2 separate regions of the Homo sapiens genome follow, and region 2 is linked to region 1. Evidence: fine-mapped expression QTL. A gene starts in region 1. The other region holds a variant in brackets. All regions are shown on one strand. Distances are between the middles of the regions. Region 1 holds the start of LINC02281 (long intergenic non-protein coding RNA 2281). Region 2 overlaps LINC01551 (long intergenic non-protein coding RNA 1551).

Evidence for each region. PIP is the estimated chance that this variant, and not a neighbour inherited with it, causes the effect.
Region 2: its variant is fine-mapped to the expression of LINC02281 in testis (GTEx, PIP 0.99).

What each region holds. Positions count from the first base shown.
Region 1 is chr14:28,824,705-28,835,379 of GRCh38, forward strand. It overlaps LINC02281 (long intergenic non-protein coding RNA 2281), which reads right to left and starts at 5,449. Exons shown (of 4, transcript NR_187181.1): 1 at 5,370-5,449; 2 at 152-243. It overlaps LINC02327 (long intergenic non-protein coding RNA 2327), which reads left to right and starts at 5,531. Exons shown (of 4, transcript NR_184199.1): 1 at 5,531-5,798; 2 at 7,302-7,356.
Region 2 is chr14:28,787,473-28,798,147 of GRCh38, forward strand. It overlaps LINC01551 (long intergenic non-protein coding RNA 1551), which reads left to right. Exons shown (of 3, transcript NR_026731.1): 3 at 4,408-7,322. Among named protein-coding and RNA genes, the nearest start is that of LINC02282, 7.0 kb to the left of the region's middle. The variant C/T (reference allele first, on the strand shown) is at 4,302.

The DNA.
Region 1 (10,675 bases):
AACATTGACTTATTTGAAGAGTACAGGTCAGTTATTTTATAGCGTGTTCCTCAATTTAGATATGTTTTATGATTAGACTCAGGTTAAGCACACTTGGCTTGACTAACACAAAAGTGATATTGTTTTTACAGCATCATGTCCATAAGCTCACCTTATTGATGTTAATTTTGATCCCTTGGTCCAGATGTTGTCCAGTCCTCTACTTTCTGGTTACTGTTTCCCCTCATGCAGCTAATAGGCATTCTGTAGAGAAACATTTAAAAACCATGTAAATAACCTGCTTTTCATTAAAATTTTGCTCCTACATTCAGCATCCATTGATGATTCTTGTCTGACCCAATGTTAACTATGATACTTGAAAAATAATGATTTTTTAACTCTATCAATCACTCTCTTCATATTCGTCAGTCAAAGCTTACTATAATGAAGATCTTTTTCTTCTTCTTTCCTTCCTTCTGTCTTTCTTCAGTATAGACTTATGGATTCATATTTTAATCTTTGGGTTACATTCTATTACCACCTTATTTGTTTTGATGCTCAAATTTTCCTGGATTTATTCAATGGAAGACCCTACAGGCTGGATTCTAGGGGTTCTTGACATCACTTTTTAAGCACTATCCCCCTGACTCAACAAGATCATCCAGACTCATGTTGAACTTCCCCTGACCTTCCCCTGGTATCTTTAGTGGAAAATAGCATTTAGAAAACAAGATCTGAGCAGAAATTATGTTCATTGTTGGTGTGTTATTACTTCTTGACCTCTCCAACAAACAGAGCTATGATATTTATATGCATGTGTGTATGTATATATCTAAGTAAAGTAAAAGTTCATATTAATACTTTCACTTGCAAACCAAACCTACAAGATTTTTCTATATTTCTATCTCCCTGCCTCCACAGTGGAAACCCTCACTTGCAATAACATCAGCTCATTTGTTCAATCATCTGTACTACAACAAACCTACTAATAAGAGTTCAAGATTTCTTAACAGTTCTGTTTTTTTTTAACCTGGATTGAGAGTGTATAATCAAAATACTTGTGATCAAAAGTTACTTGTATTAGTTCTTTTATTTTTTCTTTTCAGTGTATTTAGTATTTTTTATTTGGAATTACAGTTGGGTTCATTTGTTTTTGTTTGCATTAGTTTTAGATCTTTTCCCCATTCTTGTTAAATATTGATTTAGTTTAAGTTTTTGAACATGAAGAATACTTCCAAAATGAAAATTATTCAAAAAGACATAGTCAGAACAGTGTTACTTCCTTTCATATCCCTTCCATCTGCTTCTTTACACAACTAAACACAACAGATTTTAATGTTTTCTTTATATTATACTTACGCTGTTCAAACTTTATCTTATACTTACTCTATATGGTTTCTTTGACATGACTGAACCCTGACTGATACACTTTTATCACAGAGTATCTTCAAATAATATTATACCATTTCCATCCCACCCTTTTTTTGTGCCATTTTTGTCTCACATTTTATTTCTACATAAAATTTCAATCAATTTTGTTTCTATATTTGCCTTACATACTCAACTTTAAAGAAATTAAAGAAATCTTTAAAAAGAAAAGTATATTCATCAAAATATTTACCCTTTCAAGTACTCACCATTCTTTTATATAGGTACAAGTTTCCATTTGGTATATATATATATATATATATATATATATATATATATATATATATATGATATAGATATAGATATGTGTGTGTATATATATATATTTAGCTCCCTGAAATCTTTTATTAACTTAAAAAATATATAGATTAACTCTTTGCCTGAAGAAATGTCCATTTTCCCTTTAGTTTTGAAGGATTTTTTTTCTGGGGATATAGAATTATAGCTTGAAATGATTGTTTTTTCTTTCAGCACTTTAAAATGTTTCGCTGTCTTCTGATTTCAATAGTTTCTGACTGGAAGTGTGCATTCATGTTTGTCTTTGTTCTTTTGTATGCAATATGTCTATTTTCCTCTGGGTGCTTTTAAGATTTTCTTTTTATTACTGGTTTTAACAACTCCCTCCTGTTGTACTTTGGTATGTTTTTCTTTGTGTTTATCTTACTGGAGTTTATTAATTTTGTTCCTGAAGATTTCTTATTTTTATTAAATTTGTAAATATTTTGGCTATTATTACTTCCAATATTTTTTCTGACCCTCAGTGTCTCACCTGTTCCATGAATTCCAATTATACTAATGTTACAGCAGTTAATATCGTTTTCCAAGTTACTGGGACTTCATTACTTATTCTTTTTTAGACTTTTTTCTTTCTGATCTGTATTTAGGATAGTTTCTACCACTGTCTTCAAGTTCATTGATATTTTTCCTATCATGCCTAATCTACTGTTAATTTCATCCAGTGAATTTATTCTTTAATACATTTATTTCTCTAGAAGTTTGACACTTTTTGTCCTACATTCTATGTGTTCCTTCATTATGTTCATGTTACTCTTTACATGCTTGAGCCGTGTTTTGGTAGGTTTTTAAATGTTGGTGTCTGCTAATTTCCTCATTTCTGTCATTTGTGATCTATTTGTAGTGACTGGTTTTTCTCCTAGATGTGGATTTAATTTTCCTGCTTTTCCATGTATATAACAGTATTTGATTGAGTGCTGGACATTATGAATTTCATGCTGTTGAGTGTCATATTTTTTGTCTTCCTTCAAAATATGTTGCTCTTTGTTCTGGCAGGCAGTTAAGTTTCTTGCAGTCCAGTTTTGTCCATTCTAGCCCTTCTTTAAGGCTTTAGTAGGGTGAATTTAGAACAATCTTTACTGTATGCCTACTATAGCCCTCTTGGTATTTTTACAGAAAGTTCTGAGTATTCAGTGAATAATGTATACTCTGGCTTCTGAGAACTTGAACTTTTCCCAGAGCTGCGTAAGAGCTGGAAATTGTTTGACACACAGCTTCCTTTTTGCTTTTTGCCTTGGCCTATATACGCATGACTTAGTGTTCAGCAACTGACTCTGAGATGATTGTAAAGATTTCCTGATTTACTTATTTATATGTTCTCTCCTTTCCTGTTGTCTTCCATTCAGAATTTCAGGCTCAAAAACTCTAAGCACTCTGATCTCTGTCTACACAACTCAGTGTAACCACCTAGCTCTGCTTGGAATCTACCTCCTGACAATGTGGTTCAGAAAGTTCTTCGGTGGAGAAATCCAGTTTGATTACAAGACTCACCTAAATTTTTTTTCTTCTCTTACTGACTATAATCATATAATATGTGTTGTAGGATGTCTGCAAACTCTTTATTTGCATTATTTTTTCTATTTTTCTAGTTGGTTATAGTGCACAATTAAGTCTTGCTCCATTCACCCTATCATGACAGAAGCATAAACCCCATGTACTGTACTGAATTCTGTCATAATCAGTGACAGCTTTTTTTCTTCTAATTCTTTTCCAAATCCTGCCAGTTTGCAATTTATTTTCTTTTATTGTTTTGCTGTCTATTCTTTGAGTTCTGTCTTTCTGCTTTGTGTCTTCCTTCATAGTGGAGTTTGCTTTATAAAATATTTTAAAATGCTTGCTAAAATATTTGCTATGATTTTACTTGCTGTTTCATGCTTTCCTGTTAAGTATTCTTCTCTTTTGTTGCCTGTACTTTACTTTCTTCCTCCTTTAATGTCTTCCTATTTTTCAGTATCTATTGTTGAATTATTTTGTATTTCTTAATATGTGCAAGAGATTTTTGTGCTGGAGAACAATAGGAATTGATATGTAATTTTTCTGGCTTTCACAACAAAAAGTCTCCTTTCTACTCAAATACCACAGAAAAACGCCTTTAGAACATGTGCAGTGTCTGTGTCATTATTTGTATATTATTGCTTCCTCTATTCTTGGAACCAGACTGGGTCCAGTAATGCTATTGCTGCCAGTCTATCTTACTCCAGTTCATGCACCCATAGCAGAAATAAGATGATAGATTTTTGCATTTCTGGGCTTATCCCTCCTCTTCAGGAAGTATATCTTTTGCCAGAAAATTTTGAGATTTGATATTATAAGGCTCCCTCTTTGCTTATATTCCTCTCTACGGTTTTTAATTTTTGTTTTATCCCATATAGCTTTTGTGATCTCTTTCATCAATTTGGAAGCTATGATTATAAATGTCTTCCAATTTGCCAAAAATTGGAGTTCCGCATGATTATTAAAAATTTTTTCTATTTTCAATTATTTTTGAGAAAAGAAATGCAGAATCCTGATTTCTGCAGCTATATTCATACCAGAAGTATCATTCTTTTGTTGATTCTTTAATGCCTTTAGAGTGTCATGCTTTAATGCCTTTATACAGTTACAAGTTAGAGAATTTTTACCTCCATGGAACTTATAACTTGAATGTACTGTAGGTACTGGATGATCAGTGCTGTGAGATTAAAACTATAGATTCAAATATCTCAGATAGAGATTTGTAATCATTTGCATAATCAGGATGAGTACATTGTCAAAAATGAGGGAGAATGTTAAGGATACTGGTTAAAGAGGAAGCAGAAGTGTCAGAGTTGAGTGACTGCTTAGAAACTGAGAAGCATGCAGAAACCAGTTATTCAGATGGAGCAATTAATCCAGGGCAGGTAAGAGGCAGAGACACTGTGCTAAAGATGAGAGAATCTTGGCCCAGCGCGGTGGCTCACGCCTGTTATCCCAGCACTTTGGGAGGCCGAGGTGGGCATATAACCTGAGGTCAGGAGTTGGAGACCAGACATGACCAACATGCAGAAACCCCGTCTCCACTAAAAATACAAAATTAGCCGGGCGTGGTGGCGCATGCCTGTAATCCCAGTTACTTGGGAGGCTGTGGCAGGAGAACCGCTTGAAGCCGGGAGGTGGAGGTTGCAGTGAGCCGAAATCGCGCCACTGCACTCCAACCTGGGCAACAAGAGCGAAACTCGGGAAAAAAAAAAAAAAAAGACAGGAGAATCTTAAAACCAAGAGAAAGCCTGCTCTCTCTCTCTCTATACATATATATATATATATATATATATATATATATATATATATACATATTTTTCTTCTTTGAAACGGAGTCTCGCTGTGTCGCTAGGCTGGAGTGCAGTGGCATGATCTCATCTCACTGCAACCTCCAACTGCTGCCCGGTTCAAGCGATTCTCCTGCTTCAGCCTCCCGAGTAGCTGGGACTATAGGCCCGGCCACCACAACCAGCTAATTTTTTTTTTTTTTTTTTTTTTTTTTTTAGTAGAGACGGGGTTTCACCATGTTAGTCAGGATGGTCTCTATCTCCTGACCTCGCGATCCGCCCGCTTCGGCCTCCCAAAGTGCTGGGATTACAGGTGTGAGCCACTGTGCCCGGCTGAAAGCCTGATATATCTTTCTACCATAGCAAGAACTAGCAGCACCTTACCCAGTATGAGACCGACCCAGGTCTGCCTTAATATATATACCGTAATATATACCTAACAGTTTTTTTTTTTTTTTTGAGAGGGAGTCTCGCTCTGTCGCCCAGGCTGGAGTGCAGTATCGCGATATCGGTTCGCTGCAAGCTCCGCCTCCCGGGGTCACGTCATTCTCCTGCCTCAGCTTCCGGAGCAGCTGGGACTGCTGGCGCCCGCCACTACGCTCGGCTAATTTTTTTGTGTTTTTAGTAGAGACGGGCTTTCACCGTGTTGGCCTAGCGGTTCTCCAACTCCTGACCTCATGATCCCCCCGCCTCAGCCTCCCAAAGTGCTGGGATTACAAGCGTGAGCCACCGCGACCCGCCAACACTCTTGACAACAGTGCTGTGCTAAGAACTTGGGGGACTTCAAAAAGTTCACCAGTTCCTGTGTCCATGGTAGGTAAACATTTTTAAAAGTACCTTTTTATTTATCTTTTCATATATTTATTTCGCTCTATCGTAACAATAAGCTGTATACTTCATATGTACAAGTCAGTTGCCTTTTGGTCTGATTTTCAGACTAATAGAGTCATATCAGATTCTTACCTTATGATATTGCTCAGGAAGATTAGCTGAAGTTCAAGGCAAGAGCAACTTAAGTAGGACAGATCTTTGAAAGATTTTTCAAAATCCGTAGGAACAATAACTCAAGTAAGGTAAATCTCTATAAAATTCTAGAAGATGTGTGTCTATAATTTAGGAGGCCAAAGACATTTTTAAGAGAAGGAAATAAAACTCTGTAGCTTGAAGTTTGGAAGCCTCAGGAAAAAAGCCTATAATTTCAATGGGATTTCTTAATAATAGTATTTTAGAGAACAAGTTTACAGCTACCTTTAGACAACATGAAAGAAGCTCACAAGTAATCTCCCAGGAGATGACATTGAATAGATTGGGACACCAAGGAAGATACTTAACTTTAACGAGTTTAAGTATCATACATATTTACTTTTAAGGTGTTCATTTCTTTAAAACAATGTGATGAAAATATAACATAATAGGAATGTATGTCCTATTTTAGAAGTAGGGCAAAGCAGGCTGTTTAATACAAAATTGTGAGTGAGATAATTTGAAGCTAAGAAAACATAAATACAGTATGAGCCCACATACCATGAAAAGGTAACAAATAGGGAAGGGAAACAGCGGGGAAAACCCCAGAGCATTTAATCTTATTTTATGGTGGCATTCATGTACTGAAAAGAGTGAAAGAACAGCCCCCACACTTCCAGAAATGAGTCAGTTTCATGTCTCAAGCTGATTATAAACCATTCAAGGGCGGCAGCCTCCCACAGCTGACTTTAACTGTGATTAGAATAGAGGATGGTCGTTAGTTTGGGCATGCCATATGTGCCCTGAAGTCTCAAAGCCTGATCATCAGGTAAACTTGAAGTTTCTCTAGGACCAGCTTACAAATAACTTCATATATGTATCCTGAAAAAGACAGCTCATCAACAGGCCGGTCACATATGCTTAAACCATACTCCAAACCATTTGGCATGCACTAGAGCAATTTTACAAGTTTAGAAACTCCATCTTAATTTTAAACCACTTCAGTTCTCCAATCCTTTTCCCATCACAAAGAAAAGTATTCCATCTGATGAACGTAGGTCATACTGTTTCGTACAAATCCCCAGATTCTTGTGAGAATCAGAATTTTTATCAAACAGTATGGATTCAGGACCGCTTATGGTCTGAAAGAGGAAAAAAAAGTCCTAGTTAACGTTATTGTCTTTGATTACAAAGCCCCGAGTGGAGGTGCTTGTAAAAATCATTTTTTCTTATTTTTTTCTTCTTTAATAACACAAGGGATTTAATACTTAGAGAAATCCTTTTAATCCTTTCATTTGAACAGAAGTTTATTTATAATACCTATAATAAAGCATTTAAAATTTCTGTTTGCAGGGTGAAAAGATTTTCTACATCTTTCCTTGACTAGAAACAGAAGTCCTGAAACAAGGTATTCCCAGTCATGTTGCGCATTTTCAAGTATTTAGATGCAGCTATGAAATAACTTTTTAAATTCTGTGGTGAAGTTTGATTAAAATAATTATGATAGTATCAGAACCACAAGATAGTAAGTGTGTTCTCTCTTAGCTGGCAGACAATTAAAAACTATATACGGGATGTTTTTATATTAGGTATATCCCAGTATATACAACAGATTACTAAAATTATAAATTGTAGATTTGAAACATTGCAGACTGTGATTAAAGAAAAAAACTTCCTCTTCACAAAGTTATCATCTTATTTAAAACAAAATGTGGAAACATTTCCCAGTATAATTTATGACTACTTCATATTAACAAACAAATACACTTACTTATTTGTGGAATATTCATTGAAAAAATGGAATGTTGAATTTAAGATAAATAGAAGTTAGTATTTTAAATAATTATCTTTTTCCTGAGCTCAATTTAACCTGTTAAACCTCATTTAAAATTGATACATTTAAAATAATTCTAATGGAGGATTTGGAAAGAAAAATCCTTTCCCTCCCACACTTACAGAAGTGCAAACCAAATTAAAAGAGCATGTAACCCAAAGTTGCATAGTGATATATTCAAAAGGAAATTTCAAAATTTGAAGATGTGGATCATAATACAGGAGTTATATGTGTTCATTTTTCACAGTATGTCCTTAGCTTTGCTCTCAGATAGACAGATTTTAAAAGTAAGCTGAATTATTAAGGCTCCAGGATGCTTCCCACTCCTACCTCCACTATCATGACAATAATGAAATCTACTCCAATACAAATTCGCATTCCATTTTCTTTTAGGATGTTTATGGCAAAATTAAATTTTAACTTACTTTTCATGTGAAGTAAAAAGTAAGAATGGTCACTATGCCACTTCATTTTTCTTCCAAAGAAAAACAAATACAGCACATAATTAATCCAGGACAAGTAATCCAGGATTAACATAAGTGGCACTACACATTTCTGAAATGTCCTCCAAACTAAAGGTTTATAATGAGTGAGACAAGAAATTATAATTCACTCTATCAAAAATCTGAAGAGGGAGGGAATATTTTTGCTATGCACAAGCTGAATCAAGTTAATGAGGCATCTAACATTGCAAAAAGAACGTTGTCTATAAATAAATTCAGTCTGATTGGGATGTATTAGTTGTCTGATAATATTCTGTAGCCTACAGATGCTTTGGGTGGAATGTAGATTTCTTAAAAGAGAAAGGCCAATGGAATTACTTCAGCAAAGCTCCAGGTCATTTTCTTTAAATGGCATTAAAAGAAAATGTCCCTTTAAAATATTTTGCAATCACAACAATATTTTCAAAGTAATACATTTAGCATAAGACAAAATATGCTCATCAGCTGAAATCCACCGGAACTTTAGAATTTGGAAAAAATATCTTCTCACTCACTCATATTTTTTTTCCATTGAAATCTGTGTCTTAAGGTACTACTCATGGGCAACATACCTAAACTCTAGAGAATAGGAAGAACATGCACTTAGAATCTCTGCTGTTGCTCAGCCTAGACCTAAACCTAGTACATGTACTTATGCTTATTGTTTATGGGAGGGCTAGACTTTTATTAATGAGTACAAGTTATTTCTGACTAGTTACCAGATGTTCCTACAGAGTGGTGAGAATATAATTGTTCCAATCAAATTTAAAGTTCAGGTTAATGGAACTTGTTTTTTTAATAGGATTGTAGAATCTAGAAGTGGAATACATTTTATATTGTCTATTCTGTTACCTCCTCCTTAGAGAACTCTTAATTTGCTCATTTACTCAAATTTATAATAGCTCTAAAGATATGTCTCCTTTAAATCATTTTCCATATATTCAGCATAAAATTACTTTCATCATTTTTATCCCTCTGAAATTAGTTTTAAATGTAAACTGTATGAATCTTTACTGACAAAAGCTCCAAGAGTAGAGAAAGGTATGAAGTGAAATTAGAAGTACTCCCTTTTCTACACACCTAACCCATCTCCTAAAATTTTCAACTATTAACATTTTCTTGTGTATTATGTCAGAAATATTTTCAGGATTCTGTGAATTCTCAAGGAGCTTATTCTCATGATCATTTCCTCACATCCTGTTTTCCCTAAATTAGTTTCCATGCCTCATTTTCCCAGGCTTCCCTGTGTTTTAGAATGAGTCATTGTAGGTAAAGGTTGGCTGGTTATGTCTCTGCCTACATGAAATCGGGGGACGTATGTATCAACTCTTGGAATTCTCCCTTAATTTTACCGACAGATTTTACAGGTTTTTGACTTGCAGTTCTGGGAGTTTTATGGACTTTATAGATGATATTGTTTTTCTATCATTTTATTATTTTTGTTTGTTTTATATTAGTGTCAGACTGGGGAGTAGAATAATATCTTCATATTGACATCTTACACTTAATAATTACCTTTATTCTCTTAGATAAAAGTTTGCTAAATTACACATTTTTGTTGTTCAGAAGTTCTCTCTGGCCACACTCAATTCACCTACTCTTTTCTGTCTTCAGATTCTTTGCAAATAGAATCCCGGATCTTAGGGTTGAAAGATGTTTTTAAAGTATATAATCCAGCTTTCAACTGATGAAGAAATCCTTCCTGTGATATTCTCCATAACTGTTTTCTATTCTCTGTTGGACAACATCAAGTGATGAGAAATGCACTACTTCATGACATGTGCATTTTATTGTCGGCTTCTCAATAACTACCTCTTATTGCTCCTAGGTACACCTTCTTGAGGCTTACTTGGTGAGTCTAATTTGTCTTCTGGCACCACTGTGAATTTGAAGGCTTACGTCTTCTTCCCTGATCATATGTTTTCTACATGTCAGGGTAAAACATTTCTATTTCTTTTAAACATTTGTCAAATGTAATAGCTGTCTATCCCTTCATGATTTCAATTCATTCAACAAATCCTTCATTGAGTAGCTACTGTTTGAATGGTCTATGCTAGGTGTTAGGTCTATAATGACTATATAGACTAAAAACCCATCTTGGTCACTAACAGTTTCCACCTTCCGGTCTAATGCAAGGGGCTCAGCAGAGTGTAAAGCAGCATAACATGTTTATTTAAATATTATGAGAATAAATAGGATTGCGGCCAAATACATTTATTGTCAGACTGACTATTTCAATGGCTTCTGTTTCTATTTAGAACAAAAATCCAAATTTCTTTTGATGATCTATTAATTCCTGTTTGATATGGCCTTTGCCACCTTCTACAACCTCATCTCTTACTGTTCTTATGCCCCTACTACACTTTGGGACTATTAGCCTTCTGTAAATTCTTCTAACAAGCCAGCTTTTT
Region 2 (10,675 bases), 37 kb before region 1:
TCATGACAGTGATTTGAAATGTTATAGTTGCAAGTCAATATAAAGCATATTTATTAGCATCATTATTAAGAGGTGTCAGAGGGATACAAATAAGACCTGCTCCTACCCTCTGGGAACTTACAATCTGGTTGGGCAAAATAATGAAATGTAAATTGATAGAAACAGCTACTAACCCATATTCGGTGTCTGGCATATTGAAGGCATTCAGTAAATAATTACCTCACAATAATTGCAGTCCTGTCATTCTTATAGTAGAATATGATATTGATAAGAAGTAAAGGAAGGAATAATTAGTAAAACTTTAGGAAATGAATTTGTCCTGTATATGTCACACGTGGAGATTGGAATATGCAAGTTGATTGTGTGTAAGAAGAATAAAGGGGGCATAAATAAAGATGAGAAAGACGTTTGATGAGATGGAGTTTGGTGGTAAATTGAAGGAAAACTTAAAGACCATTCAGAGGAGTTTCTATTTGATAGTAGAGGTAATAAAGACCCATGGTGGCCCTACGAGCAGAGGATGACATTACTAAAATTGAGTTTTATTTTAAAAATGATTCTAGGCTGGGCGCTGTGGCTCATGCCTGTAATCCCAGCAATTTGGGAGTCCGAGGTGGGCGGATCACCTAAGGTTAGGAGTTCGAGACCAGCCTGGCCAACATGGCGAAACCCTGTCTCTACTAAACATACAAAAATTAGCCAGGTGCGGTGGCATGAGCCTGTAATCCCAGCTACCCAGGAGGCTGAGGCAGGAGAATAGCTGGAACCGGGGAGGCAGCGGCTACCAGTGTATCTGAGATTGTGCCACTGACCTCCAGCCTGGGCGACAGAGCAAGACTGTCTCAATAAGATAAATAAATAAATAAATAAAGATTCTAGCCAGCAACTGAATATAGGGAAAATTGCAGGAGAAAAGATTAGTGCAGTTCTGGAATGTGGTACTGTTAGAGAATGGCTATAGTCAGAGCTATCATTACGTCCCTTCTCCTCAATTTTTATACAATTGAAATTGCATTGAAATGATGAAATCAGGAATGAATCTTGCATAGAACAAAAGCCAGAGTACCACTGGAATCAGTACTACCCCCTTATTCTTCATTATTGATAGTGACAGGGGATGTTAGACATTGAGAGAAGGCAACTAACCCCAAAATATTTTCATCACCAGTTAAGCTCTAGATATTTTTTTTTTTTTTTTGCATTTAGCATATCCACCCATTATGCAATTGCAGTGGTTCTCAACTGGGGTGATTTTTGTCCCTTTCCTCCCCTGGGAGACTTTTCACAATGTCTGGAGACATTTTTTAGTTACAGCACCTCTGGGGCCACTACTGACGTCTGGTAGATAGATGACCAGTGTATTGCTGAACATGTTAAATTCACAGGATGGACCCCCATAACCACAGACTACTATGTCCAAAATGTCAGTCATTCTGAGCTTGGAAAACCCTCAGTTATGGGAATGAAGCATGAGCTCCAACTCTGGAGAGCTGCACCATGAGTCCCAGGTCTTAACTTCTATTATGGCAACAATTTCAATCGAAGAAATGTTTTGCTTAGTGAGACAAATATAACTGAATATCCCAGTAACTTTGCCTACCCCTGAGGCCTTAGAGACAAGAAAATCAGAAGGGTACCTGCTTGGATTTTCTACTTTTTATAAAATAAAGTTAGAAATCTTCTTAAGGATTTGTCTTCATCTAAATGTTATTTATTAAATTAATAAAATGTGCCTTTGGAGTTGCTTAGCAACTTATGGAAAGCTTGCTTTTTAGAAGTTCATTTGTTTGTTTAAAACCTGGATAGGTTGCATATTATTAGCCACATTACATAAATCAACAAAGAAATGTACACTGAAAATGGAATAAGATGTTTCAACACATTTTCTTCTCTCCTGTCTGGCAATTAAAACACTCTAATTGTCTGGTAGAATTGCATCAAGTATTCGACAAACATTATTTATGTATGAAACTTCAACATAATATTGAGTATGTAAGAGAACCAAAGGGGAAAAATTAAACAGGTTTGTCATAAAGTATGTGTTTATCTTAACCTTTCTTCTTCAAAAACCTTATCTACTAAGTAGTTTTATCAGACACTAATTATACGCTTTCTGAATAGAATTTCTCCAACACCCTTCAGTGCCTGCACCCTTTAATCATATCTCATTACATCTACCTAATCCATATCTTTTTCGCATTGCCAGGGCTCATTAACAGTTTTAAAAGCCAATCTTGGACATTATCACTCCTTGTAATCGAAATGAAAATAATGCCAATAATGTTGTATTTCTAAAATAAAATGGATTATTTAAATTTTGTTCTGAAGCCATTTCTTCTTTAAATATTAATGAGAAATTAACTTTCAAACATGCATTAAGCTAGCAGGACTGGTAAGATGTGTCTGAAAACCCTGAAGCACCTTTTCAAAGAAGTTATTTTTATAAGCTGTTTTAACAGTGGATCATCAGTCACTTTGAAGGGAAGTGATCCTTGATTAACAGTTGGCTGATATTGTGTTTCCACAGATGTGTGGCAGCAATACAGGTGCTATGCATGAAATAGTACAGGTAATTCACAGGATAAATGCATTTTCTTTTTCTGATGGAAAAAGATGAAATGCTTCTTCGTCTTTATATACTGCCCCCATTTAATAGTTATTGACAAGACAAACCAAATGTGTCACTGAAATAATGAACTACAGGCACTGCGTTTCCCATAAATTTAAAGAAATCATTGTCAATTTGGCTAGTACTTTATTCCTTTTGATTTCCTGTTTTTAAAAAAGAAAACTCTTACAAATCTGCAGTTACATGACTAAAGTAGAGCATCATGATAATGACTTTTTGGGACTTGAAAGTCAAATCTTGTCTCTCAGAATATAATTACATAGGACTAACAAGTTATTCTCTAAAATGGAAGCTTCCTCCACCATTATAATCAAGCTTCAGATTCTTTCTTGAAAGTAATCAGGAAAAGTTTACTGGCCCATTATTTATTTATTTATTTATTATGCACATACTATTAAGTTACAGAGTTCAAAACAACCACTAACCAAAAGTCATTGTCCAAAAGTACAGTTTTTTGAGGTGGTGTGCACCTGTGATCCCAGCTACTGCAGAGGCTGAGGTAGGAGGATCACTTGAGCCCTGGAAGTCAAGGCTGCAATGAGCTATGATTGTGCCACTCCACTCCAGTCTAGGCAACAGAAAGAGATCCTGTCTCAAAAAAAAAAAAAAAAAAAGTACAGTTTTTAGACAAGTATCCCAAGCTATTGTTCATTAGTAGTGGAGACATAATAAAGTTTTCATTCTTCTTTGAGTTATTTTCCCACTCATTAGTTTAGCCAGATAGCAGTGATCTCTTATTTTAAGTGTTTTGTCAGCTGTTTCTTCCAGTTTTTCTTTGGAGTATATGTATTTTTTCTTTTAGAATTTTGTGTTTCTTCTGATTTCTCTCCATTAATATGGCTCATCTTGTTGCTGACTACAGAAACTTTTTAAGCAGAATCAAATGAAACCATATAGTTGCTGAGTTTGGTTTGTATTGTCATATCTTTTATAGTTGTACCATTGCTAATAATCAAATACAGTAATACAATTAGATGTGTAGAATCTGTAAGATTTTTTTTTTCCAAGACTTCCTTGGAATTTTCTCTTTTAAATTCCTTTTATTTATTTGTTTATTTTTTTTTTAGATGGAGTCTCGCTCTGTCACCCATGCTATTGTGCGGTGGCATGATCTTGGCTCACTGCAACCTCTACCTCCTGGGCTCAAGCGATTCTCCTGCCTCAGCCTCCCGAGTAGCTGCAATTACAGGCACCTGCCATCATGCCTGGCTACTGTGTGTGTGTGTGTGTGTGTGTGTGTGTGTGTGTGTGTGTGTTTGTGTATTTTTGTAGAGATGGTGTTTCACCATGTTGGCCAGGCTGGTCTCGAACTCCTGACCTCAGGTGATCCACCTGTCTCAGCCTCTCAAAGTACTGTGAGCCACTGCATCTGGCTCCTTTTATTTATTTAATCATATTTTTGTGTGTGTGTGGGATAACATTGCACCTGCTCGGTTATGCACAAGTAATTTACCTTTCTTTGCTTTACTGAAATAGCTTGAGTATTCAGACCTTACCAAATTTTTATGGTGACATGATAGACAATACTTATTTAAATAAAATTTCTTTCATTTTATTATCAATTAAATTAACTCTATAATAAAAAATAAAACTTGGTGAACTTAACAACATAGCAAATCACCATAACAATTTTAAAATTGCAAACGTGGTATTAATATACCTTAAAATTGTT[C/T]TTGCTTTGGTAATCAGGTTTTTATCTTTATTTCTCTTATTAAGAAATTTTGCCTTTTCTATACTGATAATCTTTTTCCTTGTCCTTTTCATGTTGTTATTTTCAGAGGTTTTTCATTAGTCAATACAGTGAAGGCTGGCATGATCATCAGCTTCCCATCCAATAATATCTACTCATCAGTGTGCTGTTGTCAATCAGAGATTTTCAAGTATGAGTTCTCCAACTCAAAGAAAAGTAGCTGGATCCAGGAAGAAAGGCATTTGGGGAAGAACAACGTTCTTTACAGTGCTCATGATGTGTCTCCAGAGAAAGTTACTTCAGCACTAAAAAAAACAAACAAACAAACAACAACAATAAACAACTTTCCTCTACAGTATCTTCCAGGGTCTAAACTATTAGACAGGTTCCTAAGTTTATCCAGATCTCTCCTATGTCTGAATTCTTGGTCATCTTCCTTGCCTCTGGCTCCACAGGTAAAGAAGAAATAATAATAAAGGAACAAAAATTATATGTTTCAGGCCGGGCGCGGTGGCTCACGCCTGTAATCCCAGCACTTTGGGAGGCCGAGGCGGGTGGATCATGAGGTCAGGAGATCGAGACCATCCTGGCTAACAAGGTGAAACCCCGTCTCTACTAAAAATACAAAAAATTAGCCGGGCGCGGTGGCGGGCGCCTGTAGTCCCAGCTACTCGGGAGGCTGAGGCAGGAGAATGGCGTGAACCCGGGAAGCGGAGCTTGCAGTGAGCCGAGATTGCGCCACTGCAGTCCGCAGTCCGGCCTGGGCGACAGAGCGAGACTCCGTCTCAAAAAAAAAAAAAAAAAAAATTATATGTTTCTGTCGGGCTGACTCATTCCACTTTTGAAGCACCCAGTGGATTAATTAGTCTTATTATTGCATTTACTGTCACCTACACATTTGTTTGTGGGAAGGCACTCCTCTTGGCATTTGCTTAGTTGGAAAAAGGAACACTAAGACTATAGCCACTGGATAATGTTCTTGAAGTTCACGGCACTGTGGCAGCATAAAGCTTGAACAGACCTAGTTTTTTTATTGATGGAGTGCAACTGATGTAGCACCACTTTTCTCTGACACTGTATATTAGCTTTTAGTTATGAACTACTTCCTTCCAGTGCAGCAGTTGTTGCCTACCATTGGTACCAGTTTGGCACCATTATAAAGAAACATTGTACCTCTTATAGGAAGAATTTGGAGAGTTTTGGTATGGTAATCAAGATGTGTATTGTAATAATTAACTGAATTCTGTGAACACACTGTTTCTACCTTAAGTGAAAGAAAAAGAGAACAGCTGCAATTATTTATCTTCACTCATTTCTCATAGATAGCCAGGATTTTTCAGTGTACATTCTCTTGTCCTGAAATTATTTTCAGTTCTTGTTGATTCTTATAGATTATAATGAGAAAGGCACGAGCAAGAAATTTGAAATAAAGAACACAAAATGAGATTGCCCTTTGGTTGTTAAAATTGCAGATTTAACAAAATAGATCAGCAAAATATGTGCAAAGTTATCTTAACAGATTAATTCCTATCCAGCAGGCTTTAACAAAAACTAATAGAAGCTATTACATATTTACAGAAAAAAAAATTTAGCCATGAAAGCTACTAAAGAAAAGCCAGAAACAGCGTAAGAATTCCCTACTCAAATATGATTCAGAGACGAGGGTGGGGACTTTATTCCACTGGACTTCAGTCCCAGTGACAAGGCCACTACTATTGTGAATTAATATCAGGCTAATTAAACTTGATGTTATTAAATGTTCTATCCATAAAATTTTTCATTCAGAATTCTTGTTTTTCAAACAACATTCTGGATTATTATTTAGCTGTCAAAGTAGCTGTGTTCTTAGAAAATACATCAGTCAGGGCTGGGTACAGTGGCTCATGTCTGTAATCCTAGTGCTTTGGGAGGCCAAGACAGGAGGATCACATGAGGCCAGGAGTTTGAGACCAACTAAGTCAACATGGTAGGACCCTGTCTCTATCCCCCTCTACCCCCCAAAAAATTAGTCAGACATGGTAGCACATGCTTGTAGTCCTAGCTACTTGGGAGGCTGAGGTGGGAGGATCTCTTGAGCCCAAGAGTTCAAGGTAGCAGTGAGCTGATTGCACTACTGCACTCTGGCTCATGCAAGATAGGAAGACCCTGTCTCAGAAAAGATTAAAAGAAAATAAACTAATCACACAAATTTCAAATATACTATTTATAATGGTAGAAACATTTTAGTGAGCAATGATCCTGGCCTTTAGTGAGGTTTTTCTCATAACAATTTGTCATAAATGAATAATTTCTGGGTAAAACATTATAATTTCATTTTTTCTTTATTTATTTATTTTTATTTTTATTTTTGAAACAGAATCTCATTTTGTTGTCCAGGCTGGAGTGTCCGCCTCCCAGGCTCCAGTGATCCTCCAGCCTCAGCCTCTTGAGTAGCTGGGACTACAGGCATGCTCCACCACGCTCGGCTAATTTTTGTATTTTTTGTTGAGAAGGGGTTGTGCCATGGTGTCCAGGCTTGACTTGAACTCCTGGGCTCAAACAATCAGCCTGCTTTGGCCTCCCAAAGTGCTAGAACTACAGGCATGAGCCATGGAGCCCAACCTGTGATTTCTTTGCTGTGTACCCCCATTTGATGGATAATTTTTTGGCATGTTGATAAACGTCAGGGTGTAAAGTATCCAGTATGAGGGGTAAAGCCAGGATTATAATAAATTTGTCAACTTCAGGTTTTCTTGCTAGCCTTTTCTGTGATATACAAAGTGCACATACAACTACATGGGTAGGAGAATTGTTGAAATAAGTTATCATTGTTCAAACAATAATTTGTTGGAACCAAATATCACCCACAATGCAATTGTCTACCTTTAAAGAATGGCCATAGAGTCAAAAACTTTCTTTTGAATCCTGGATTCACTATTTATTTGATGTGAGATCACCTTTACTTTTATACCATCAATTTCCTCAGTGTAAAGAGTGTATTATTAAAATTCCCTCGTACGGTCACTTCAAAATTAAAATAAATAATTCACATAAATGCTTAGCACTGTGCCCAGAGTATGGACATGAATGTAAAATAATGCCTCGACATTTTATCACTAAGAGTAATAATATTATTATCATAATAAGATGATGTTGATTCAGGATATGATTTGGGCAGCAAAATTTTCACAGGGACCAATTGCAGAATACTCGAGATCATATAGTTTCTAGAAATTATTTCCACTCTAATATTTAGATAGATTACGGTCCCGCCATTGCCGTCCTCTGAAGTATCAGATCTTATATTTATTTTTTGTAATTCTTTATCATTTATAATATTTGAGGAATAAATTAATGAATGAATAATCTTCTAGACTCTCCCAAATCTCTCTCAATGGCTTAATACTATCAAGACTTATTATTCCCTCATATCACATTCCAGTGCAAGTTGGGTGAAGAGTGGGGTGAATCTGTTTCATTGAGTCCCATTTAGTCATTCAGGAACCCTGGAAGTGACTCTGCCATTCTTTAGGGCTTTGGAGTCTTCCAAAGGATACACAACATTGGGTAAGGAGGGAAGAAAGCTTATTGGAGAGCCAGCAGGATAATTCCTTAATCCCATTAACTTGAAGTCAACCACATGGCCCAACCTAATTGCAGGGGAGGTGTGGGAATATAATTTAGCTGTGTATTTTGGAGGAAAAAGAAATGGGCTGGCACAGTAGCTCACGCCTGTAATCCCAGCACTTTGAGAGGCAAAGATGGGAGGATACCTTGCATCCAAGAGTTTGAAACCAGCCTGAGCAACATAGTGGGACCATGTGTCTACAAAAAATAAAAATTAAAAAACTAGCCAGACGTGGTGACATGCGCCTGTAGACCCAACTACTCAGGAGGTTGAGGCGAGAAAATTGCTTGAGCACGGGAGGTTAAGGCTGCAGTGAGCCATGATGGTGCCACTGCACTTCAGCCTGGGTGACAGAGTGAGATCCTATCTGAAGGAAAAAAAAAATGGGTTTGCTGACCACACAGCATTACTTCTGCCCTACTAATTAACCAAACACTGCCACTAACAAAATTAGTTTTACGATTCTTCTATAAATTTTCAGTTACCTAAAGATGGTGAGGAACTCTTGCCTAGGAAATTAATTTGCACATAGTTTTATAGAACAATATATCTTATATTAGAAAGTCTTTGTCAACAAGGATTGGAAAGTATCACCTTTTGATAAGTCTTTGTTCTATAGGAATTCTCTGGATAACTTTTTGTGAAGCATTTATCCTACCTCATTTCTACTTAAAGCTCGTATATATGACAGAGATTATATCCTTAAATGAGCATTTCCTTGCTTTTATCATCTTGTGTCATTATCCCAACATTCTTTTATTATAGTTGTTATTGAGAGCATACTTTCAGATTTAGCATAGAGATTAACTGTGAAATAAGTAAATAGTGAATTGTTTAGTTGGAATGAAGTATAAAAGTCAATGCTTTTAAGAGGTTTTTTTTCAATTTTAACTGCTATTTCTAAGTGACTACAATACTCGAAAAGAAGTGGATTGACAATCTTAGATTTAAGATTTTTTTCTATGAAGAATTGCTGTGACGTTAAACTTTACAAACAATGTAAAACTTTACTATGATTCTCCAAAATATGCTTTTTCAAAAGTTCCACTTTACTGATGAGAGTTCCCTATATTAAAACCCTTTCAGCTCATGAATTCTTGGGGTCTTTCCAAATGAAAGACTTTTAATGTTTCCATGACAGTGTTTACTCATTATGGTTAAGGAAAGAGATTCATATTGCCTGCTTATTTGACACTTTGCCTAATAAATTCCAAATAATAACAAATAGCACTCTAAACAATTTACTTATTAATACCAATAATCTGTTGGAGACTCGTTGTGTATATTTAATGGTTTCCTTTCCACTGAGAGTATTTTCAACTATATTGATACTACTTTGTAAGAAATCACTATTTTAATTATTTTCTCATAATTAATATGCATATATGAAACTGGCATTATATTTTGATATTTTTAATAGAGATTAAAATATCCCTTATTATCCATATTTAATAAAAGACATGTTTGTGATACATATTTAGATACAGTTTTAAATGGCCATTTTAGTTATTAAGTGAAGTTAAAGACTTTTTTTTCAACTTTTATTTTCGGTACAGGGTACATGTGCAGGCTTGTTACATGAATACATTGCCTCCAGTCAGTGAGCATTGTACCCAATAGGTAGTTTTTCCATCCACACTCCCATCTCGACCTCCCCACTCTGGTAGTCTGCAGTGTCTATTGTTCCCATATGTGTTCAATGTTTAGCTCCCACATAGAAGTGAGTACGTGAGGTATTTGGTTTTCTATCACTGCATTAATTTGTTTGGGATTATGGCCTCCTGAAATAAAAGAAACAAAAGATTGACATTCTTTAGATGATTATACATTCATGTACATACTTCTGCTTCTAGTGATTATAGCACTATTAATTCTTATATAAAATATTTGTTTTTTTCCAACTGCTTTTTAGTGCATGCATTTTATAATTTTTCATATAATTACCTGTTTGCAAATTAAAGGAGGCTAGAGAGTTCATTGTAACATCATAATTTTGTTTTTTATGCCAGCCTAACCAACTTTAGCCTTTATTAAATAAATAAAAGTTGAAAATGAATGTTCATAAATACATTAGTTATTTAATTAGAAATGCATATTTTTAATTGAACAATTCTGTGAGAGAAAATGTTTGCAAATATACATTAAATAGTAAAAAATGGCATTTTACTATTTTGTTAAGTAGAAATATATTAAGTATGTAGCCACATAAGAACTGGGATAAGGCCAGATGCGGTGGTGTGTGCCTGTAATCCCAGCACTTTGGGAGGCCGAAGTGGACGGATCACAAGGTCAGGAAATCGAGACCATCCTGGCTAACATGGTGAAACCCCGTCTCAACTAAAAATACACACACACAAAATTAGCTGGGCAAGGTGGTGCACACCTGTAGCCCCAGCTACGCGGGAGGCTGAGACAGGAGAATTGCTTGAACCCAGGAGGTGGAGGTTGCAGTGAGCCAAGATCATGCCATTGCACTCCAGTCTGGGTGACACAGTGGGACTCCATCTCAAATAAATAAATAAATAAAATAAAATAAAAAATAAAAAGAACTGGGATGAAATATTTTTGGCCTTATGTATTATAAGCTCAGTGATCTTGCATTAGCTATCTTTGTATATAGCTTTTTGTTGACTATATTGTTTGTATTATACAAGTTATTTTCTTGATATTTAAGAATAGCAGTTGATTGATGAAGATGTGGTAGCATTTACTGAGAAAACAATTTGAGTTATTTTACCCTTTACACAAC